Homo sapiens: one gene and its partners. The protein of the gene in region 4 purifies or fractionates together with the protein of the main gene of each other region. This does not show direct contact. Each region holds a gene or a part of one and is shown on either strand. Other genes may lie near its edges.

The links.
Region 1: the proteins of CLNS1A (region 4) and SEC24A fractionate together in Homo sapiens (co-fractionation; one large-scale study listed by BioGRID). This does not show direct contact.
Region 2: the proteins of CLNS1A (region 4) and CDYL purify together in Homo sapiens (affinity purification with mass spectrometry; one large-scale study listed by BioGRID and IntAct). This does not show direct contact.
Region 3: the proteins of CLNS1A (region 4) and LRRC47 purify together in Homo sapiens (affinity purification with mass spectrometry; one large-scale study listed by BioGRID and IntAct). This does not show direct contact.
Region 5: the proteins of CLNS1A (region 4) and VRK1 purify together in Homo sapiens (affinity purification with mass spectrometry; one large-scale study listed by BioGRID and IntAct). This does not show direct contact.
Region 6: the proteins of CLNS1A (region 4) and CTPS1 fractionate together in Homo sapiens (co-fractionation; one large-scale study listed by BioGRID). This does not show direct contact.
Region 7: the proteins of CLNS1A (region 4) and EPB41L1 purify together in Homo sapiens (affinity purification with mass spectrometry; 2 studies listed by BioGRID and IntAct, with this or other methods). This does not show direct contact.

The regions. Positions count from the first base shown.
Region 1 is NC_000005.10:134,651,785-134,655,284, reverse strand, and holds part of SEC24A (protein transport protein Sec24A), read right to left. Parts: intron 1-3,500. UniProt on the Homo sapiens protein: Component of the coat protein complex II (COPII) which promotes the formation of transport vesicles from the endoplasmic reticulum (ER).
Region 2 is NC_000006.12:4,947,404-4,950,903, forward strand, and holds part of CDYL (chromodomain Y-like protein), read left to right. Parts: intron 1-3,500.
Region 3 is NC_000001.11:3,789,999-3,793,498, forward strand, and holds part of LRRC47 (leucine-rich repeat-containing protein 47), read right to left. Parts: intron 1-3,500.
Region 4 is NC_000011.10:77,620,795-77,624,294, reverse strand, and holds part of CLNS1A (methylosome subunit pICln), read left to right. Parts: intron 1-1,621; coding exon 1,622-1,795; intron 1,796-3,500. UniProt on the Homo sapiens protein: Involved in both the assembly of spliceosomal snRNPs and the methylation of Sm proteins.
Region 5 is NC_000014.9:96,877,382-96,879,745, reverse strand, and holds part of VRK1 (serine/threonine-protein kinase VRK1), read right to left. Parts: intron 2,245-2,364; coding exon of another isoform or gene 2,173-2,244; intron 1-2,172. UniProt on the Homo sapiens protein: Serine/threonine kinase involved in the regulation of key cellular processes including the cell cycle, nuclear condensation, transcription regulation, and DNA damage response.
Region 6 is NC_000001.11:41,007,196-41,010,695, forward strand, and holds part of CTPS1 (CTP synthase 1), read left to right. Parts: intron 1-253; coding exon 254-350; intron 351-1,463; coding exon 1,464-1,519; exon of another isoform or gene 1,520-1,598; coding exon 1,599-1,695; exon of another isoform or gene 1,696-1,700; intron 1,701-2,249; coding exon 2,250-2,394; intron 2,395-2,965; coding exon 2,966-3,050; 3' UTR 3,051-3,059; exon of another isoform or gene 3,060-3,063; intron 3,064-3,500. UniProt on the Homo sapiens protein: This enzyme is involved in the de novo synthesis of CTP, a precursor of DNA, RNA and phospholipids. Catalyzes the ATP-dependent amination of UTP to CTP with either L-glutamine or ammonia as a source of nitrogen.
Region 7 is NC_000020.11:36,206,740-36,210,239, forward strand, and holds part of EPB41L1 (band 4.1-like protein 1), read left to right. Parts: coding exon of another isoform or gene 1-1,041; intron 1,042-1,561; coding exon of another isoform or gene 1,562-1,669; intron 1,670-2,748; coding exon 2,749-3,159; intron 3,160-3,500. UniProt on the Homo sapiens protein: May function to confer stability and plasticity to neuronal membrane via multiple interactions, including the spectrin-actin-based cytoskeleton, integral membrane channels and membrane-associated guanylate kinases.

The DNA of each region.
Region 1 (3,500 bases), on a different chromosome or scaffold from region 4:
GTGCTTCCCACCCAACCAGCAGCTTCAGAATCAGAGGAACCTGCTATAATAATGGTACAAATTGAGATCCCAGGTCCCACCTTTGTAAAATCCTATTTCATAGGATTCAAAAGGATCCCAGAATCTGCATTAGTAAAAAATCTCATGTGGCCGGGTGCGGTGGCTCACACCTGTAATCTCAGCACTTTGGCTCAGGCGGGCAGATCACCTGAGGTCAGGATTTTGAGACCAGCCTGGCCAAAAAGCTGTACGTTTCTTTAGGAAAGCCTGGGCCAGGCGTAGTGGTTCACACCTGTAATCCCAGCACTTTGGGAGGCCAAGGTGGGAGGATCACGAGGTCAGGAGTTCGAGACCAGCCTGGCCAAATGGTGAAACCCATCTCTACTAAAGACACAAAAAAATTAGACAAGCATGGTGACGCACACCTGTAATCCCAGCTACTTCAGGGGCTGAAGCAGGAGGATTGCTTGAACCATGGAGGTTAAGGCTGCAGTGAGCCAAGACTGCACCACTGTACTCTAGCCTGGGGGACAAAGTGAGACCATTTCTGAAAAACCAAAACAAAACAAAACAAAACTGCAGTTTCTAACTGGCTTTGCAAGTTGATTCAGTCAATAAAGGCACTAATTAATGGTGGGAGTCATTATTTGCCTTTAGCGTTAATACATGATAATCAGATTAAGATCCATTAGTTTAAGGTCTTGTAGTCTGCTATCAATTTTTGCAAAGGAAATATGTATACACAAAGACTTAGAAAAACCTCTCAGCTGGGCGCAGTGGCTCACGCCTGTAATCCCAGCACTTTGGGAGGCCAAGGCAGGCAGATCACGAGGTCAGGAAATTGAGACCACCCTGTCCAACATGGTGAAACCCCGTCTCTACTAAATATACAAAAATTAGCTGAGCATGGTGGTGCACGCCTGTAGTCCCAGCTACTCGGGAGGCTGAGGCAGGAGAATCACTTGAACCCGGGAGGCAGAGGCTGCAGTGAGCCAAGATCTGCACCACTGCACTCCAGCCTGGGTGACAGCGTGAGACTCCGTCTCAAAAAATATATATATATATTTTTTTTTTTTGAAAAAGGCTACTGTTAGGTCTTTTGTTTTTTATTAATTTATTTATTTTTGTGACAGGTTCTCACTCTGTTGCCCAGGCTAGAGGGTAGTGGCATGATCATGGCTCATTGCAGCCTTAACCTCCTGGACACAGGTGATCCTCCTACCTCAGCCTCCTGAGTAGCTGGGACCACAGGCTGGCACCACTACACTGGACTAATTTTTCTTACTTTTTTATAGATATGGGGTCTTCCTATGTTGCCTACCCTGGTCTGAACTCCTAGGCTCAAGCAGCCCTCCTGCCTTGGCCTCCCAAAGTGCTGGGATTACAGGTGTGAGCCACTGCACCCGGCCTATTTATTTATTTTTGAGACAAGATACTGCCATGTCACCCAGGTTGTAGTGCAGTTGTGCAATTGTAGCTCACTGCAGTCTTGACCTCCTGGGGTCAAGTGATCTTCCTGTCTCAGCCTCCCCAGTAGCTGGGACTACTGGGCCCGCACCATGCCTATTTTTTAAAAATTCTTTGTAGAGACAGGTTCTCACTATGTTGCCGAGGGTGGTCTTGAATTCTTGGGCTAAAACAATCCTAGCACCTCGGCCTCCCAAAGTGCTGACATTACAGGTGTGAGCCACCACACCTGGTGAGGTCTTTTGACTATAATATATAAAATATCTGTGCTAGATGTTGTGGCTCATGCCTGTAATCCTAGCTCTTTGGGAGGCCAAGGCAGGAGGATTACTTGAGTCCAGGAGTTCAAGACCATCCTGGGCAACAGAGTGCAGCTCTGTTTTCTAAAAAAAACTGTTTAGTTAGCCAGGTTTCAGGGCATGTGCCTGTAGTCCTAGCTTCACAGGAGGCTGACGTGGGAGGATCACTTCAGCCAGGAGGTTCGAGGCTGCAGTGAGCCATGATCAAGTGACTACACTTCAACTTGGGTGACAGAGCAAGACCCAGGCTCTTTAAAAAACAAACAAACAAACGAAACTGGAACGGGTATGGTGGCTCACACCTGTAATGCCAGCACTTTGGGAGGCTGAGGCAGGAGGATCATGAGGTCAGCAGATAGAGGCCATCCTGGCCAACATGGTGAAACCCCGTCTCCACTAAAAATACAAAAATTAGGCCGAGCACAGTGGCTCATAACTGTAATCCCAGCACTTTGGGAGGCAGAGGCGGGCAGATCACGAGGTCAGGAGATTGAGACCATCCTAGCTAATATGGTGAAACGCTGTCTCTACTAAAAAAAAAAAAAAAATACAAAAAATTAGCCGGGTGTGGTGGCGGGCACCTATTGTCCCAGCTACTCGGGAGGCTGAGGCAAGAGAATGGCATGAACCCAGGAGGCGGAGCTTGCAGCGAGCCAAGATCGCACCACTGCACTCCAGCATGGGTGACAGAGTGAGACTCCGTCTCAAAAAAACAAAAACAAAAACAAAACAAAACAAACAAACAAAATACAAAATCAGCCAGGCATGGTGGCATGTGCTACAGGTGCCTGTAACCCCAGCTACTCGGGAAGCTGAGGCAGGAGAATCGCTTGAACCTGGGAGGTGGAGGTTGCAGTGAGCTGAGATCGCACCACTGCACTCCAGCCTGGCAACACAGCAAGACTCCGTCTCAAAAACAAAAAACACCAAACTGGCCAGGCACAGTGGCTCACGCCTGTAATCCCGGCACTTTAGTAGGCCGAGGTGGGCGGATCACCTGAGCTCGGGAGTTCGAGACCAGCCTGGGCAACGTGGCGAAACCCCGTCTCTACTAAATATACAAAAATTAGCTAGACATAGTGGCGCATGCCTGTAGTCCCAGTTGCTCAGGAGGCTGAGGCAGAATTGCTTGAACCCAGGAGATGGAGGTTGCAGTGAGCCAAGATCACGCCACTGCACTCCAGCCTGGGCAATAGAGAAAGACTATCTCAAAAACAAAAAACAAAAGCAAACTGAAGATCTAATTATACTGTAATATGTAATTTAAGCAAACTTCATTAAATACTTAAGACTTTTCGGCCAGGCGCGGTGGCTCACGCCTGTAATCCCAGCACTTTGGGAGGCCGACGCGGGCGGATCACCTGAGGTCAGGAGTTTGAGACCAGCCTGACCAATGTGATGAAACCCTGTCTCTACTAAAAATACAAAAATTAGCCGGGTGTGGTGGCATGCACCTGTAATCCCAGTTGCTCAGGAGGCTGAGGCAGGAGAATTGCTTGAATCTGGGAGGCAGAGGTTGCAATGAGCCATTGCACTCTAGCCTGGGCAACAAAAGTGAAACTCCATCAAAAAAAAAAAAAAAAAGAGTTTTCAACAGAATATGCAAGCATCAACTACTGCTTTGGAATAGTTAAGCAAAACTAGATCCCAGCATTGAAACGTTTTCTCACCTTCTTGAAAAATATCCTGTTCTCCAACTTGATACCATATCCCTACTCTCTGTATTATTAGCAG
Region 2 (3,500 bases), on a different chromosome or scaffold from region 4:
CTGATTAACCTGGGTGGAGCTTGTCCACTCTTGCTGACAAGTCCAGGGGCTAAGGCCAAGTCTCAGCCCTCTCTGCCTCTTGCTCCCGGCTGCCCCTCTGCTTGCACCCATGTCCCTGCCCCTCACCTGTGAGAGTGTTAGCACGTGGACGGCTGCCTGTGCCAGGTACTGTGGCTTCTCCACCTGGCCTGTTGGGGGGTGGTCCCTCATTGCCAGCTGGGGAGCCGTGCAGTTTCTAAACCTCTCTCTTCACCCTCGGTCTGTCCACTCCCCTCGTCACAAGGTGGTTTCTCTGGAAGCTAAGATAGATTTGGGAAGCAGGGTCTGGTAGATTAGGTGCCAGCGTCCATGGAAGGGCAGAAAGGAAGCAGGATTGGGCAGAGCTGACTGACAGGGAGCTCTGGAACCACGTGGCCTCACGGCGGTTCCCGGTGCCCCACTGCAGTTGGCCGTGGGGTTGGCGGCCCTGGGAAGAGCGGTCCATGGGGGAGGCCCTGAGCTCTCTGTTGCCTGCTGACAGCACTTCCCACAGCAGGCAGTTTGCTGGGGTGGGGACGTGGGTGGCTTATCCAAGTCATTTGCTTTGTCCTTTACACCGTACTGCACGCACCTGACACCACCAGACTCCCATGGTAGAGTCATTATCAGTAAAATCAGTTCATCGTAGTGATTACTGTAAACGAGACTGTGTCCTGCCAGTTAACCCTGTCCCGGCAGGAAAGAATCCTCATCCTCTGGAACATCCCGTGAATCTCATTTTGAGTTATTTATCCAAAGGAGGTTGAGATCTGAGGTTCTGACCCCTCCCACTGTATGATCTATGTAGATGTGTGGTGTCGGTGCAGATGTGGGGCAAATACTAAACCACCTTGATGTTCAGACACATTTTGGCCAAAGACATTTTGGAAGTGGAGCCCTGGAGCTGAATGCTGCTCAGGGGTAGAGGTGTCAGAGTTCACCATTCCCAGAAAGGGCCATGAGGCTTGAAGTCATCACAGGACGAATGCCTGCCCTCTGGTCAGCCGTGTTTCTCCCTACTCTACAAGCCTTGGCAGATCTTTACTTTACGCTTCCCCTGGAGATGTACTGGTGCCTCTTGAGCTGCTGCTTTCAACTGGGCAGTTTTCACCCCCGACCTCACCCCTGGGGAACAATGTCTGGAGACAACTTGGTTGTCACACATGAGGAGATGGCCGTTAGCAGAGGCTGGGGTACTGCTCGGCACCCTCCATAGCCCACGGGACAGCCCTGCTTAGCACCCTGCATGTAGCCCCCACAGGACAGCCCCCACACCAAACAACAGTCCAGCCCAGAATGTCCCTAGTGTCCAGGGGGAGAAACCCTGCTCTAACTCAAGAGCGAAGAGCCTGCATTTCACTCGGCGTGAATTCTACACTTTCTGAGCAGAGTATCTGACGAAGCCTCTCTACAGAAAGTGAATAAACGTTGTTCAGATGACTTCGACAACTCTTGTTGAAAGTGACTATGCAGATGATGTAAATGATGTCGTTCCTTTCATGAGCCTTTGGTGTACTTGAGCTTTCAGCAGCCTGAGGCAAGACTGGACAAGTGTGGTTTTCCCCACTTTGCATGTGCAGAGCTCTGCCAGGAGGATAAGCTAAAGGAATCACATTATCAAGATAAAAAGAATATGCAAATAGTGCAGGCTGTGTGGCCTCTCCTTTCTTACAGCAGGCCCTCCGCTGTAGGCGAGGGCTACGTAAATCAGCCAAGGAGTCTCTTCCAGTTTAGCCTTCCTGGTGCCCAGTAGACATTCATGGAGTGCATGGAGGATGGCACGGTCTGACGCCCACAGGCTCCCACGTGGAAATCTTGCACCTCTCAGGGGCCTGCTGGGGTGTGAAGCTGGAGAATGCCCAGCGAGTACCTGAGGGCCTTACCCCACGCTCACACCTTGAGAGCCCTCTCTTGGGGACTTCAGAGACTGGCCTGAGGGAGCAGGTGGTAAAACCTCTGCCACAGCAGTCCCCATAAGGCTGAAGATTCCTGGATCCCCTCTGCTCATACTGGGCCAGTTTCCTCGCCACCCGTCCTGCTGTACTCTGGCCAAACTAAAAAGACATCTCTATTTAACTTTCCTCGGCATTTCCCATCTCTCTGGATGGTTCCAGGATAACTTTCTTTTAATAGTTGGACAACTTTGACCACATCATGGGGTGATGTAGGTTGTCTACAGGGAGTCCCTGTGCACTCAGCCATCTCAGAGCAACGTGCTAGCTGGTCAGGTTCCCACCGCCTGCATCTGTGTGAATCGGTTATTTGGGTAGAAGTTTGAAACCTCTCATTTTGAAACTACTGAAAATAGTGTGTTTATATAAGAATATGCTCACGCAAATTGCGTGTATTTAATCCTATAATACATATCTTACCAAGGGAGATTTGTTGTTGTTGTTTTCTTGGGTGACTGTCGTTCAAACCAACTCACTGGCCGTGTTTAAGTGAAAAAGCTTTAACAACCTAGCGTGAGCCCTGTCATTTTTGCTCTTGAGTAAATTGAGAAATGCCCTTGCTTGTCCTGCACATCCAACCACCTGGAATGGAGAACACCGAAGGTAGGGAAAGGATCTCCAGGGATGAGCAGGCCTGGAGCCGGCGGGGCTGTGGAGGAAGACCGGCCGCAATGAGTGAGTGCTGAGCAGAGAGAAGGGCCGTTCTCGGCTGGTATCAGGCCCAAGAGAGTCAACAAAGGGGGGACGAAAGGGAGACAGGGAAGAGAACAGTGGTGGGGCTGTAAGTTGACCTCCAGGTGGCAGAAAATAAAGTTGGAAGAATTGACTGGGACAGACAGCCAGGGCCCTGCAGGAAGGGCGGGAGAGGAAGCCTGCGGACACCTGCCCTTTGTGATTGAACCGCAGACACCAGGCCTGGCGGGGTCGCTTGCCTCCGCTGCCCAAGCTAAGGCTCCACTAAGCTGGTCCTGAGAACATACTTCATGCTCAACTTCAGGGATGTGGCTGTAGTGTCCTCACTCTATGCTGAGAATGAAAGAAGCACAGTCTATGAAAGGAAAACCCCGACAGCACAGAGCACTTCGTGCGGCAGCAGCACACCGGGAGTCCCACTCCCTTTCCTGCTGCGTTTGGATCTGCCGTGACAAGGACTATCAGAACCACTCACAGTAAGGTCGGGTCGCGTTTCTAAATCCACTGTTTATGGACCGTCTTTTCACTGAGAAGAAGCTCGTCAGTTCAGGGGTTTCTAGAACTTCTCCAGACTCTTCAAAAACTCATGACTTTCTCCAAGTTGGTAATCCCAGCACTTTGGGAGGCCCAGGCGGGCGGATCACGAGGTCAGGAGATCGAGACCATCCTGGCTAACACAGTGAAACCCCGTCTCTACCAAAAAATACAAAAAAAAATTAGCCGGGCGTGGTGGCGGGCGCCTGTAGTCCCAGCTACTCACGAGGCTGAGGCAGGAGAATGGTGTGAGCCTGGGAGGCGGAGCTTGCAGTGAGCCGATATTGCACCACTGCACTCCAG
Region 3 (3,500 bases), on a different chromosome or scaffold from region 4:
TGGCTAGGGGTCCTCCTGACACCTGATGGGATGAAATGCCGTCACCTGTCACCCGGAGCTGACACTCTACTGCAGGAAACACAACCCTCGCAGTGGCTAAGCTGACGGCAGCAACGTGGGTCCTGACTCTGGCCTGGCATACCGGCTGCCTTCCGGGCCCATGGCTTTTGCAGGGGACCTGCTGCCGGGGAAGGATCCTAACTTCATGGTGGTGACAGGCTGACATAAACCAACCCAATAAGGAGCGCCAGCCCCTGAGTGAGCCCCACTCCCTCCGGCAGCAACTGAGAAACTCGGAAGCTGGGGGAGAGCCTTTGGCTTCAGGAGGGTTCACATTGAGGCTGAACTCCCCTGTGCAGCTTGGCCTTGGGAGGGGAGTGGCCCAGGGCCTGAAAGGATGTCTTTACTAAGGCACCGTCCTGCCCACATCAGCTGTTCAGGTAACATCTGTCCCATCCATCCCTCATTCCCACACGGACACCACACGCCTGCGTGATGGCCACTTACAATGCAGTCAGGAGAGGTGTGACGTGCCCCCATCCTCGGCTCACCACAGCACTGCCAGCTGAGCCCCACGGGCCACAGCAGCGGGAAGCAGCCAGGGAGGGCCGGCCGGGTGCTCTCAGGTCTCAGCAAGCCACGTGGCTCTGAGGCCAGGACACTGGGGAAGCCAGGCTCCCACGCAGGCAGAGCTACTGCTGAGGCCATAGGACAGCAGAGGCCTCGTCCCCAGTGGCTGGGAGGAAAGAGGGTCAGGGCCTTTGCACTGCAGGTCCCAGCCCAGGCTTGGGGGTGCTCCCTGGGGAATGGCTGTGGGGATGGGCACTAGGAGCCAGGCCGAGCTGCTTCCATTTGCAGTCTCGCCCCTCTGGGGAGGGAAAGGACAGGCAGAAGCTCTGTGCTGTTATTTTGGCGGCCCCTAAAGAGCCAGTCCTCCCAAAGAACCGGAACTGGGCTCGCACTTAGTTAACCCACGGAACGCAGGAAAGTGGCAGGAAGCATGTTCCAGGTTGATGCCTGAAGAAGGGCTGGCAGCTGCTGCTTTTGTACTGAGGAGCCCTGAGCCCTGTGAAAGAAGGGGAGGGAGAGGCCCCGAGACGACACACGGAGAAGCCCACCCACCCCGGCAGCCCAGCCCTGAGCCCACGCCAGCTGAGCACAGCCACGCGAGCGACCAGCAGCAAGAGCTGCAGCACTGTCCACTGTTCACTGTCCACTGTCTGGCGGAGCCAGCCCAGAGCGCAGAGCCGCTGCTGCTTTAAGCCTCGTGGTTTCGGAGTCAAGCAGCCACAATGACCAGCACTACCTCCCCCATCTCTTTCCCTCTTCGTGTACTGCGTTACCCTCCCAGTCTTCCTACAGAGGAGCAAAGAGCCTTCAAGACCCAACGGCACGCAGCCACAGAGAGACAGGGCTGGAGCCCGTGCCTTCTGTTTTTTTTCCTTTCCTCCCCCTTCTTTCTCTCCTTTTTTCTTGAGACGAAGTTTCACTCTTATTGCCCAGACTGGAGTGCAACAGCACCATCTTGGCTCACCGAAACCTCCGCCTCCCAGGTTCAAGCAATTCTCCTGCCTCAGCTTCCCGAGTAGCTGGGATTACAGGCATGCGCCACCACGCCCGGCTAATTTTGTATTTTTAGTAGAGACGGGGTTTCTCCATGTTGGTCAGGCTGGTCTTCAACTCCCAACCTCAGGTGATCCGCCCGCCTCAGCCTCCCAAAGTGCTGGGATAATAGGCATGAGCCACCGCACCCGGCCTCTCTCTCCTTTCTTTAAGACAGGGTCTAGCTCTGTTGCCCAGGCTGGAGTGCAGTGGTGTGATCATGGCTCACTGCAGCCTCAACCTCCCAGGTTTAAGCGTTCACCCCACCTCAGCCTCCTGAGTAGCTGGGACTACAGGTGCACACCACCACACCCAGCTAATTTTTGTATTTTTTATAGAGACAGGTTTTCACCATGTTGCCCAGGCTGGTCTCAAACTCCTGGGCTCAAGTGATCCGCCCGCCTCAGCCTCCTGAAGGGCTGGGATGCCAGGCATGAACCACTGTGCCCAGCCTGCCTTCTGTTTCTGAGCTCAGTTTTCTGGTTTTCTACACTCCCCATCTCCCCACAGCACCAGGAAGGACATCAAATGCATTTGCCTTTGTGTGCGAAATTCCAATGTGCGTAGCTACATTGCTGGGCATAGTTCTGGTAGCCATTCCTCAGAAAGGTACCCAAAAGGACATCTGAGTGCAACAAGGGATTCCAATAGCTCTTGCATGACCCTCCAAGAAACAGGTCTCCTGATAGAGAGCCACTGGACGCCTAAAATTTACGAACAGAATGGCCCAGGGGAAAGGGAACTTGGCCACCTCTTTTGGGATTTAGAAAACAAGACACACTCTTTGACTTGAATGACATTGTTTTGGGCACCATAAAGAGGAATGCTTTACCAGGCAGGTGCTACAGAGAGCTGGACGCACACTTTTTTTTTTTTTTGAGACGCAGTCTCACTTTCTCACCCAGGCTGGAGTGCAGTGGTGCAATCTCGGTTCACTGCAACCTCTGCCTCCCGGGTTCAAGCGATTCTCCTGCCTCGGCCTCCCGAGTAGCTGGGACTACAGGCATGCACCACCACACCCAGCTAATTTTTGTATTTTTAGTAGAAACGGGGTTTCACCATGTTGGCCAGGATGGTCTCGATCTCTTGACCTCGTGATTCGCCCGCCTTGGCCTCCTAAAGTGCTGGGATAACAAGCGTGGGCCTGGCCCACAACACTTTTAAGAACTTGAATACTGAAAGACATCTATGAATTTGAAGAGAAATATTGCAACTGACTGGACACTTACATGATGTAAGGCACAATGTTAAGATACATGCCTAGTACATCAACACTCTGGAAAACCAAAAGTATCTGTCAGGTGGGAAGGTGGGAGTAGACCATGCTGTATCCAACATCACACCTTAGTCCTAGAGGGATGCCTACAGCCCTGAGGACCAAGGAAAATGCCAGTGAACTCGCCTCTTCCAGGAAATGCCAATGAAACCACCTTTGCAAAAACTGTAACAGTGAGAAAATTATGGTGGTGAAAGAGATCTGATCTAACCAATCCCCATCTTTGGCCTTCCAACTACCTTTTTTTTTTTTTAAATGGAGTTTTGCTCTTGTTGCCCAGGCTGGAGTGCAATGGTATCATCTTGGCTCATTGCAACCTCCGCCTCCCGGGTTTAAGCGATTCTCCTGCCTTGGCTTCCTGAGTAGCTAGGATTACAGGCATGTGCCACCATGCCCAGCTAGAGATGGGTTTCTCCATGTTGGTCAGGCTGGTTTAGAACTCCCGACCTCAGGTGATCCGCCTGCCTCAGCCTCCCAAACTGCTGGGATTACAGGCAGGAGCCACCGCGCCTGGCCCTTCAAACTACCTTTAATTATTCCTGGGCTTGGGCCAAGCTAACTTTGGGAGACATTTGTAATTTAAATGATAATACTCCTTCCGTAAAACTCAACTGCCTTTGTA
Region 4 (3,500 bases):
ATATTGTTTTATTATTACTATTATTATTTTGCAACAGGGTCTCACTCTGATGCCCAGGCTGGTGTGCAGTGGTGTGATTTCTGCTCACTGCAACCTCTGCCTGCTGGACTCAAATGATTCTCCCAGCTCAGCCTCTTGAGTACCTGGGACTACAGGCTTGCGCCACCATGCCTGGCTAATTTTTGTGTATTTTTTATAAAGACTGGGCTTTGCCATATTGCCCAAGCTGGTCTCCAACTCCTGGGCCCAAGCAATCCTCTGGCCTTGGCCTCCCAGAATGCTGGGTTACAGGCATGAGCCACCGGGCCTGGCCTGCATCTTTATTTAACATGTTCCTTCAAACAGCTCACTGCCAAGGTCATTTCTTTTTCTCAGAACCATACTTCATTTATTTAAGAGCCCTTTCCGATTGCCTCCCCCAGACCAGAATGCAGTCACTAGCGTGATAAGAGTCTTTATAGCTTGAAGTACCTGCTGTTCTCTTTTCTTTTCCCTACTGGTCTTATGTACACCAATCTGGGTATCCAAAGCCCTTTCCTTCATATGTACCCACTTCCTGGCCTGAGATAAACACATTTCTGGGATCCGCCATCACATACCTAAATATATCCAAATATATCCTTATCTTTCTGAGATTTTTGAGTGATTTAAAATTTTTCATCCTTTTTGTATGTTCCAGAATTTCTAATTTTTTTTTTTTTTTTAAACAGGGTCTAACTCTGTTGCCCAGGCTGGAATACAGTGGTACCATTCTCCACCCACTGCAGCCTTGAACTACTGGACCAAAGCTGTCCCACCCCAGTCTCCCGATTAGCTGAGACTACAGGTGCACACCACGTGCCCGGCTAATTAAAAAAAACATTTTTTTGGAGAGATGAAGTCTTACTATGTTGTCCAGGCTGATCTTGAACTCCTGGGCTCAAGCAGTCCTCCCAGCTCGGCCTCTCAAAGTGCTGGGATTACAAACGTCAGCCACTGCACCTGGCCCTGATTTTTTTTAAGAAAGGAGCATGTTTTTTAATCAGAAAACATCTTCATTTTACAAATTAATACCAAATTAATTTGTGCTCACTTGTAAAATTCCCACCTCAGGATAATGTAGGACTCTCTGACCTTAGGAACACACTTTTTTTTTCTAGTCCCTGGACTTGGGATTCTTTGGGAATTGCTGTTTACTGGCTTGTTATCTCTTTTAATAACCCTAGAGAGTAGGTACATCTTCTTTGTATTTCTGTCTTCAGCAGTAGCCTATATGTGTGTATAAATAAATGTTCAAAAGTATCTTCCTGGAAGCCTATTTGGACAGTATATTATCTTCAGCAGATTCTTTTTTTTTTTTTTTTTTCCAAGACAAGGTCTTGCTCGGTTGCCCAGGCTGGAGTACAATGGCGTGATCTCGGTTCACTGCAACCTCCACCTCTGTGGTTCAAGCGATTCTCCTGCCTCAGCCTCCTGAGTAGCTGGGACAACAGGCGCGTGCCACCACGCCTGGCTAATTTTTGTATTTTTAGTAGAGATAGGGTTTCACCATGTTGGCCAGGCTGGCGGCAGATATATTATTGATTCCATTTTGTTTTTTCTAATTGTTGTATTTAAACTTTAAAGTTTTCTGTTTGTTTAGAACAAGGACAGGGGGACATCCCTACATTTTACACCTATGAAGAAGGATTATCCCATCTAACAGCAGAAGGCCAAGCCACACTGGAGAGATTAGAAGGAATGCTTTCTCAGTCTGTGAGCAGCCAGTATAATATGGCTGGGGTCAGGACAGAAGATTCAATAAGAGATTATGAAGGTGAGTGTCCTTTTGCAGTGTGAACAGTCAGATGAGCACTTGGGCAATAAGTTATGGATAGTCAATAGAAGTTCTTTTAATAACTAAGAGAAAGAATTGACTCTCTATAGTATAGGAAGCAGATACAGAATTACATAGTATAGGAATGCTTATGTCATTTGTTTTTAGTGATTTTTTTTCCTCATTACCAAAAAAGTCTTTGTTCATAGTCAAAAAAATTTTTTTAATGTGCGCAAGAAAGTAGAAGTGAAAAAGAAACAAGTGTAATTCTAACTGAGAGATATCCACTATTAATTTACTGTTGCATCTGTGTATTAGTTTGCTAGGGCTATTATAACAAAGTGTCATACAGGCTGGGTGGCTCAAACAATAGAATTTTATTGTCTCATAGTTTTGGAGGCTAGAAGTCCACGATAGGTTATCTCTGAGGGCTGTCAATTCAGGCATCTCTTCAGGTATACACACACCCACCAAAGCAAGAGAGAGATTTTAAGAAATTGGCCCACGTGACTGAAGGCTGGCAAGTCCAAAATCTGCATGGTAAGCCGGCAGACTGGAGACCCAGAGAAGAGTTTATGTTGCATTCTGCTGCCTCAGAAGTTCTGCTGGCAGAATTTCTTCTTGCTCAGGGGAGGTGAGTCTTTTTCCTATTGAGGCCTCCAGCTGATTAAATGAGACCCACCACACTATGCAGGGTAATCTCCTTCACCCAATTTTCACCAGTTTACAAGGCTAATCTCATCTAAAAAATAACCTCCACAGAAACATCTAGAATAATGTTTGACCAACTATCTGGACACCATTGCCTAGCCAAGTTGATGCATAAATTTAACTATCACACCCTTCTTTTTTTCTTAAGATGGAGTTTCGCTCTTGTTGCCGAGGCTGGAGTGCAATGGCACGATCTTGGCTCACTACAACCTCCGCCTCCTGGGTTCAAGCGATTCTCCTGCCTCAGCCTCCTGAATAGCTGGGGTACTGGCGCCTGCCACCGCTCCCAGCTAATTTTTGTATTTTTAGTAGAGACAAGGTTCCACCATGTTGGCTTAAAGTATGCACAGGCAAAGAAGAGGTAGAAAAAAATAAATATAATTCTGAGATGCATTTACTATTAATTTTCTGTTGCATATCCTTTCAGTCTTGTGTCCTTTTGTGTGTGTATATACACTGATTGTGTGTGTGTGTGTGTGTGTGTGTGTGTGTGTTTGAGACAGAGTCTTGCTCTGTCGTCCAGGCCGGAGTACAATAACGTGACCTCGGCTTACTGCAACCTCTGCCTCCCAGGTTCAAGTGATTCTCCCACCTCAGCCTCCTGAGTAGCAGGGATTACCCACTACTATCGTGCCCAGCTAATTTTTGTATTTTTGTAGAGACGGGGTTTCACCATGTTGGCCAGGCTGGTCTCGAACTCCTGACCTCAGGTGATCCGCCCGCCTCAGCCTCCCAAAGTATTGGGATTACAGGCGTGAGCCACTGCACCCGGCCATGATTCTGTCTTATTTATTTATTTATTTATTTAAGACGGAGTCTCACTCTGTTGCCCAGGCTGGAGTGCAGTGGCATGATCTTGGCTTACTTCAACCTCCACCTCCTGGGTTTAAGAGATTCTTCTGCCTCAGCCTCCTGAGTAGTTGGGATTACAGGCATGTGCCACCATGCCTGGCTAATTTTTGTATTTTTAGTAGAGGCGGGGTTTCACCATGTT
Region 5 (2,364 bases), on a different chromosome or scaffold from region 4:
TGTTGGTCAGGCTGGTGTCGAACTCCTGACCTCAAATGATCCACCCGCCTCAGCCTCCCAAACTGCTGGCATTACAAGCATGAGCCACTGCGCCCGGCCTATTTCAAGAAATTTGAAATTAATTCTGCACAGAAAACTGAAAATGCTGCGATAGTGAGACTGGCATAAAGGGTATTACAAAATCAAGGTCAATAATCAATACTATATCTCCCTTTCAACACATTTTAAATCTTTAACCACACTACAAAGAACACTAAATTAACAACTATAAAGTTACATTCAAATAGCATTATTCTCATTAATGTCTTAATTTGCCATTTTACTCTGAAATTAAATATCACTGCTGCTCATCTCCTTCAATCCAAAGTTTCTCACTGCAACTAAAAGGGCTACTACTGCCTGGAATTTATTATATAATCAGTCCTACGCACCTTGTTGACTTTGCTGCATAAATCAATTCAATATTTTCCCTAATAATCAATTCTGATTGTTACAAAAAAAACTACCTTATCTCTTTAATTAAATATATAACCATTTTCATAATATACACTACTGGCAAAGGGTCCAATCAGAAGACTAATGTATATAATTTGATATTTGGAAAATAACATACAAGTTTGGGATGCTTTTCTATGATTTTATAATGCAGTAGGAAAAAAAAAGTAGGAAATTTCTTTGTAGGGTTCCCTTAAAAATATCTACTTTTTGACTAGTCATGCTTTCTCCAAAGATTCCTCAGGAATGGTCCAAAATCCAAGGTTCTTAAAAATAATACCAACAAAAGTAGCCTCCATTTTATGAACAGGAGGGGGGAAAGTACACCAGCCATAAATATCATGGCTATATTAGCTAATTTTTAGCACAATTCTGAAATACTGGCATGATTTTGAAATGCCAAAATATGCATGATTTTTAAAGGCTCCTCATTTTGTGAGGGGAAAAATTACTTGCAGCCAGTAACCAAATTTTCTCAACTGGTAAAAATTATGCCTTGCATAAAAATAAAAGGATTAGAGGCCTCTGTTCTTCTTGAAAACCATCCCATCACCTCCTCTATTTATTTGAGAAAACCTACACAATACACATTTTGAAAGCTTTCAGAATGTGTTCTTACACAATAGACCCCCAACTATTCAAAATGAGTTTAGGTGTATCTAGAAAATTATACACATTTTTAAAATGGTCTAAATAGATATTAAAGGAAAGTTGCTCCCATTTTGCTAGGCACAGCATTCTGAAAGATCACACAGTGCGAAAAATCTCTTACCATACTGTAAATCATAAATTGTGTTTGAAAATAAAATTGTTAATGAAGAAACTGACATTTCTAAAGCTGCTGTTAGAGGTAACCATTCTTGAAACACGTTTATGACACAAAATCTTAAAGCCCTAAAACACAGTGTTCACTGAATTGTACTATATATCTTAAAAATTAAAAAAACAAATGTAATAATGTGTCTTTTCCTTCAAGTAACTTTTAAACTGATAAATTTAAAAATATACATTTACATGAACTCTTGGCTTTTTCTTTTTGCTGGAAGCAATAATATTTTACCATCAGATAATATTTCTCTCACTTATGATTATTTTGATAGTAAAATACCTTAACTCGCATTGTACTTTAGGGGAAAAAAGTGAACTGTAATGGGGGAAATAAACAGCATTTTAAGAACGGCAATTTTGAGTTTATATGAATAAGGGTGAATCTGACTATTCTTTATCTTCTGAAAAAGTTAGGTCAAAAAAACTGAATTGTTCTCCTTAAATTATTTATGACTTTACTATACTCTTTTGTCATTAATAAAATAACAAAAATACTGATATATTTTCTCATGGGAAAAAGCATCAGTAGAAGACCTTAAACTAAAAACTTAGGTTAAAAAAAAATTCATAATTATACTAGAATTTAAAGGCATTTATCTATCAAAACAAAAACGCTTGATGCTCATTAAGCAAAGTTCAGGTAACAAATGATGTCCAGGCAGTCAAGAAAGGGATGAGTCTTCCTGATGCGCAGCTGAGACTCTGCCTTAGACTTAATGAGTGTCAATCTCACTAGAACAATGCAGGATCTTTCTGAAACTAAAATTGCCAGTTTTAAAATTTAAGGGATTGTTTTTTAAGAATATTGCTGTATATTTATAAATACTCCTTAATTTTGTTCCCACTCACTGTCATAGCTGCTGCTGCTAGCCTCTGGCTGAGACATGCTTCGATGTATTGCTCCTTGGGACTCCTCACTTCCTAATAACAAAATGAACAAGACAGGGGAAAGGAGGAAAAAAGACAGTAGCGAAAGGAAGACAGCAGCGGGAAAAAGAGAGGGACTACTTCAAAACCTCTCGCCTTCAGTGTGAAGTTATA
Region 6 (3,500 bases), on a different chromosome or scaffold from region 4:
GGACTAGCCTGAGGAGGGGCTGCTGTGGTCCTGTCTGCAGATCAGGAGGACAGGCTGAAGGACGGAGCCTCCACCCAACCGAGGTTACAAATGCCAACTGGGAGGCATTTTCTTCTGTGACAAAATGTCTCATAAGGAAAGCCTGGAGAATTAGAGCTTACTTACAAGCCTTTGCCACCCACTCAGCGAGGGAGGTTTCTCTCTAGCGGAAGCAGAGTTCTGTAGTTGGTGTCTGTTTTCTGAACATCTCCAGGTCGTAGACATGCCAGAACACAACCCAGGGCAGATGGGCGGAACCATGAGGCTGGGCAAGAGGAGAACCCTGTTCCAGACCAAGAACTCAGTCATGAGTAAGAGCTGCCTCACGCTGGCCCAGCCTTTGGCTCTGCGTGCCCAGGACGCGTGTCTTAGGGTGATGCTGTGGCTTCGAGGAGCAGGCTGGCTTTTTTTGGTTTCGTTCTTGCTTTTGAAGTTCATTCTTTCCTCTCTTATTCATACCCTTTTAGGATGCACTGTGATAGCCATAGAAGCAGTGTGGGTCTTAGAAAGGACACTGGCAGTGCAGTCAGACTCCTAGGCATGGGCGCCTCAACAGAATGAGGCAGTGAGGTTACATTCATCCTTATCGGTTACTTTCCTATTAAGACCAGCCATATCAATTGCTGATGTTTGGCAATTTTTGTCACACAAAGATGGCAATTTCATATGATTCAGCCTAAGTAGATTCTGTTCTAATAAAGTACTAATAGATGCTGAAGGTTTAGGGTAGTTTTCGGAGGAAAATAGTTAAGAAAATGACTATTACACAGATTTCCTTCTTGTCTACTGGGAAAATTCTGCCTTTACTGTATTAGCAGAGGCACCCTTGTGTCTGTCTGGGCGTTCTGTAGCAGCATAGCTGGAGTCACTTGAGTATCGGATCTTTCTCTTACCAACTCTGATGTTCTGTGGATTTGGGGATCTCGAGGCAACTGTGAAATGAGTCAGTAGAGCAGCCCGTTCGCAAATGTCCAGCTTGTTCACATGCAGCCACTGAGGGCTGATGACCTTTGATGACCATGATTGGAACTGAATGATCATCAGAGGTCATCTGTGCAGCTCTTAAAATGCCTCCCATCCTGCCACGTTCCCAGGGCCTTGCCGTTTCGTACATCCTGATTTGCTTTCCAAGGCAGTTTTCTAGCAGCAAAGTGCCCATACTTTGCAATCATGTGTTTGAGGGTGGTGGTGAGAGTCTTGTTTCTGTTACAGCTTTCTGTAGTGTTGTCAGAAAGAGTCAAAAGCCCAAGAATTAGTCTAAACTGTGTTGTTAAGAGCAGGTGACCTTAGCAGATTCATAGAAATAGCCCTCAAAAGACCTGGCTGTGTGGATGATGAAAAGTAAAGCAGGAAGGAGGATGTCTTTGTGAACGCATCATCCTGTGAGATAAAGTTCTTTACATACAGCCCGTTTGTTTTGCCAGGGAAACTCTATGGAGACGCAGACTACTTGGAAGAGAGGCACCGCCACCGATTTGAGGTGAGGATTCCAGCTTGCTGGTACTCTGGAAAGATAGTGAGCTGAGAGACCAGCAGAATTATTTTTCATGCCTCAACAGGTGAATCCAGTCTGGAAAAAGTGTTTGGAAGAACAAGGCTTGAAGTTTGTTGGCCAAGATGTTGAAGGAGAGAGAATGGAAATTGTGGAGTTAGAAGGTGATTATTCGGGCAGTTTTATTTAATGGAAAACTTAGTAAAGTTTTCTTGGCATATGGGAAAATATAAAAATGTTATCTTGTTGCTCCTGACCTAACAGAATTAGGAAGCAGCACTGTCTCATGAGGGAAGGGGTCTTGATAAACATGGGGTCTGGACTCTAGAAACTTCTTTCTGGTACATGGCCTTCCTCGGGGAGCCATTTAACTTCTGGCCGCAGTTTCTCCTTCTCCAAAATGCTTGGAGTTGGTACTAAAGCCACTTCAGCCCTCTCCTGAACCGCAAGACTCAGTCTACAGAAATCCTGGGAGCCAGGGTCTTGGGCGGGACCCTGGACAGGAGGCCTTCAGCCAGGAGGGGACAGCACAAACCGTGCTGAGAAAGGGTATCAGATCACTCATGCTTTGAGGTTCCCTTTATCTAGATTCAAATGAGAAAGTCATTTTCAAATTATTTTAGGGCCTATGGAAACAAACATTTAAGCAGATTTTGTTCTTTTACACTTTGTGCATAACCTTCACAATGAAGCTGTTTCTTTTGAATCTCTATTTCAGATCATCCCTTTTTTGTTGGGGTTCAGTACCACCCTGAGTTCCTGTCCAGGCCTATCAAGCCCTCCCCACCATACTTTGGCCTCCTCCTGGCCTCTGTGGGGCGGCTCTCACATTACCTCCAGAAAGGCTGCAGGCTCTCACCCAGGTAGGCGCACTCTTTGCTTCAGTAATCCATTAGTCTTCTCTAGTCCTTTAGGTGGTCGCTGATTCATTACAGCAACACGTCACAGTCAGTCATAAGAAAAAAAAGCCACAGGCGCCTGGGGTGAAAGTTTCCTCTCCTTTCCCGGAGCTTTCTCACGGTGTTTCCCTGGCATATTGGCCAGGTCCCCCTTTCTGCAGCATCTGAGCTCTGGTGGTGCTGACCAGATCACACTTGGCGTAGGACCCTCTGGTCCATGTTAAGGGGAACTAGTTTTTCCTGGGAAGTAAGCCACAATGGGTAGGTTTATGTCCCATTGCCACCTTTATCCAGAACCAGTACTCAGAGTTGGTGGTAGGGTGTGTGACTGAAGTATAAATGGAATGTATATCTTTTGTAGCTAGAAGAAGGAAATCTTTCTGCAGTTTCATGTTAAATATATTATGTAGCAAACAGTCTTTGTGATTCCTGCCATGTGCAGGCAAGTGTCCCTGTAGGAACCGTGGTTACAAAAACAGGGACGTAAAGTGAGTTTTTGGTGGGAGATGATGCGTAAACCATCTGAATTCTACAGGGACACCTATAGTGACAGGAGTGGAAGCAGCTCCCCTGACTCTGAAATCACCGAACTGAAGTTTCCATCAATAAATCATGACTGATCTTGTAGCGTAAGTGGTACTTTAAAGTTTTAGTTTTTAAAAACATGGTGATAACACACTGCGATTGCAAGAATATCATGGAAGTTTAGGGCTGAAAATTTTTATCTGCCAGGAATGAAAGTGGTGAGGTCTTGAATATAATCCAGAGGTTGAGAGAGAAAAGAAAGTAGTGAGGTCATTGTGGGTATCAAATGGGCAGCCCTTCCTCCAAGTTGCAGTGCACCTCCCAGTCCTGCCCTGGGGATGACAGCTTGGGGAGCATGGTCACTGGGCAGTTGTCTCAATACTGATTACTACATTCTGGTGCCAGTCTGACCAGTTCTGGGGCGGGGAAGGGGAGGGTCTGAATTCTTAGACCCTATTGTTTGATGTAGCTGTAAATTTTGGAGATCTTGAAGGAAGGGACAGATACAACAATGTGGCACTTGTCATTTCTGCAGAGCCTCAGGT
Region 7 (3,500 bases), on a different chromosome or scaffold from region 4:
TGGGAAGATGCCCAGTGGGGAGTGGAAGGAGAGTTTCCCCACCTGACAGCCAGCGCAGCCCGAGAGGAAGGGACCCCCGTGAGTGGAGATTTGCTGGGAAAGGCTGAGGAAAGTCCCACAGAGGAACTGAAGAAGCACCCTCCTCACAGAGGACAGGGCGTGCATCCCGACCCCCAGGCCTGCGCCCTTCCTCGGGCCATCCCTCTGAATGTCAGGAAGCCAGTCAAACCAGACAGAGGCAACTTCCCACCCAAAGAGAGGGGAGTGGTTCCCACCCAGAAAGGAGGGGCTGAGCTGAAGGACCGCGAGGCTTCAGCATTTCTTCACATGGAGGTGATCATTCCCCTGCCAGCCTCCCCTGGTCATTCTGAGGACCTGGCAGCTCTGGAGGAAGCTTCTCCAAGCCCAACCTCCCATGGGTCAGGGGAGCCTTCGGAGCTCAGGGAGCCCTTTCTTAGACATGTCCATCTTTCGAAAGCCAGCCCAGAGCCCAAGGACCAAGTAGGGTTTGTGGTGTCCCCTGCCACAGGAGGTGAGCGCAGGCCTCCTCCCATCACCAGCAGAAAGCCCAGAGTAGTCCCTGAAGAAGCTGAGGGGCGCATACCTCTGGGGTTTGGGTTCCCTTCAGGGAAGCGAAGGGAGATGACCTCTTTCCAGGCTGGGGACCAAGAGGGCTCCCTAGAAGATATTAGCAAGACCTCAGTGGCCAACAAAATTCGGATATTTGAGACCCACGGAGCTGAAACTCGCCGAATGAGTGAGGGTGAAGCAAGGTCCCTTCCAAATGACGTATCTTCAGAGGCACCCGTGGGACAAGCAGAGCAGCAGCGGAGTACGCTCTCAGACCTGGGCTTCGCCCAACTCCAGCCCCCAGGGGACTTTGCCAGCCCCAAAGCCACACATTCCACAGTGATACCTCTGGCTACCAGACACTTCAGGGAGGACACTTCTGCATCCTACCAGGAAGCACACACGGAACTAGAGCCCGTGTCCCCCAATTCAGGCTGTGAAACCACGCTGGCAGAAGCTACTGGAACTGGGGTAACTGGCCGCGTGAGCCCCCGCCCCCACCGCTGCTCCCCGCCCATGGGGGCTGGCCGCATGCTCTGTAGTTTTTAGAAGCATGTTTCAGTGGCCCCTCGTCATTTCTGCAATCAGAGGCTGCTTATCCATCCCTGTGAGTTTTTTCCCTAAACGGGCCTGGGTGTAGCTCAGGCTGAATGATGGGCTTCTCTGCTTGGCCCATGTTAGCTTGGCCACAAAGACCCTCAGCTTTTGGTGTGACCTGGTGCCCAGAGGGTCACACAACCCCCATGGAGAAGGTGGCGCCACCACCAGCAAATGACACACCTGCTTTGCCTTGCCGCTCATACCCGCTGGGTTCCTGCCTACCTTGCTTGGCTTGTCCAGCGATCTTTCTTCATCCTTTCCCATCCCTGGTTCTCCCGCCTTGGGAAAGTTGACAGTCCAGAGGTTTCCATCCTTCACTTCTGGTTCCCTCTCAGTCCCAGTGCCAAGTTTCTTTCTGCCTCCTTAAGACTAACTGTCTTCTCTAATCCAGAACAAATCCGGAGATGCGGTCAGGGAAGAGAAGCGCTCCACCAACTTAGCAGCCAACACCCCTGGGAAGGGGGGGCGCCTGAGATTTGCCAGCCCCTCGGGCCCTCAGGTCTCTGCAGCCCCTCTGTGCCCTGATGACCCAGTCACCTTCACCCGGCCAGGATGCATCGCCGCCTTAGGTTCCCACCTGCTGTGGCAGCACCTCTCGTGCTGCTCAACTCTGGCTTGTCTGGAATGTCTCCCTCACACCTCTCAACCTTCCAGAAACTGGCTAAATGGAGGCTCGCTTAGCAAGTGAATGTCTAAGCCCACTGAATCCCTAGAACCAGAAGCCAAGTTCTTTACAAATCTTTCATGGGTATTAGGTTGGTCTTTAAAAAGAATGTTATGAACCAGCCAAAAATGTGTGTGTGGTGTTTAATCCCTGACAGGCCAGTTGAGAGGTATGTATGTCGGACAAGAGTTGCTGGTTCCCCGAGGCACTGCCTTGGCCCGCTGTTGTCAATTACACTGATGGGACCAGAGCCTCTACTCCCTGACTTGCCTGTGGTCCACTCATGGAGCCCAGGGTGGAGCTGGCGTAGCACTCAGCTCCCAAGAAGCTCGTGCCCAAAAGGCCTGACCCTGAATTGCTCTTCTCTCTAGTCGATGCTGACCCCTCCCCCGGAGACTCAGTGGAATTGACAAACATGTTGGCTTCCTCTTTTGTTCCTCAAAGTTCTTGGCTCCAACCTCTCTGCCTTCCCTTCCTGGGTCTCCCTGAATCCCTGGATCTCCCTCCTTAGTTTCTGTTTCTCAACGCCCACCTGCACGGATGGGCCTGGGGTCCGGGCTTCCATCCCTGCCTTTCGTGCAATGCTGCTTCCAATAAGCTCCCAGATCCAATACCCTTGGATGGAGCCTCCTGTCCAGGAGTCACTGGCAGGACGTTTGCTTTGTACTTGCTTTTGCCATCAGTGTGAGACCCTCAGAAAGGGGCATCTCCACTCTTGAGTCGTTTTTGTTTTTTTTATGCTTGTTATGATTTCAAGGAACCTTTCCTGGGGTGTTTTTCATTTCCTGGCCTGCTCTTCCATTCAGGATGTCGACACAGCCCCGAGATTTCTCCTGACATTCACCATCTTGATTTCTCTTTCTCTCTCTCTCCCCACCCCACATCCCCATTCTTTTGATTTTATCTGGCCATAGAGAGCAGGGCTGAGGGAGGGCTCCGAGGAGAAAGTCAAACCACCACGTCCCCGGGCCCCAGAGAGTGACACAGGCGATGAGGACCAGGACCAGGAGAGGGACACGGTGTTCCTGAAGGACAACCACCTGGCCATTGAGCGCAAGTGCTCCAGCATCACGGTCAGCTCTACGTCTAGCCTGGAGGCTGAGGTGGACTTCACGGTCATTGGTGACTACCATGGCAGCGCCTTCGAAGACTTCTCCCGCAGCCTGCCTGAGCTCGACCGGGACAAAAGCGACTCGGACACTGAGGGCCTGCTGTTCTCCCGGGATCTCAACAAGGGGGCCCCCAGCCAGGATGATGAGTCTGGGGGCATTGAGGACAGCCCGGATCGAGGGGCCTGCTCCACCCCGGATATGCCCCAGTTTGAGGTACAGTGGAGCTTCCTCAAGAGCCAGGCCCGCTGGGCACCGCATGCTCAGAGGGCCCTGGGCCACCCGTGAGAAGACCGAGCACCCAGCCTGCAGCCTGAAGCTCTGTCTCGTGTTGCATGACTGCCCCTCCGCAGAACAGCATGGTTCTGTGCTCGCATGTTTGCCATCTCGGTTTACCCCTAACACGCGCTCCTTGGTATTTTAACCCTGTGACCCCATCGCTTGCTGAAGTCGAGCGATGACAGGTAGTCTGGTCTTTCTTGACCCCATGCCCCCCCACCTGTGTTGCATGGCACCTGCAGAGAGCATGCGTCTGTGGACTCTTGGGGGCTCCTGCA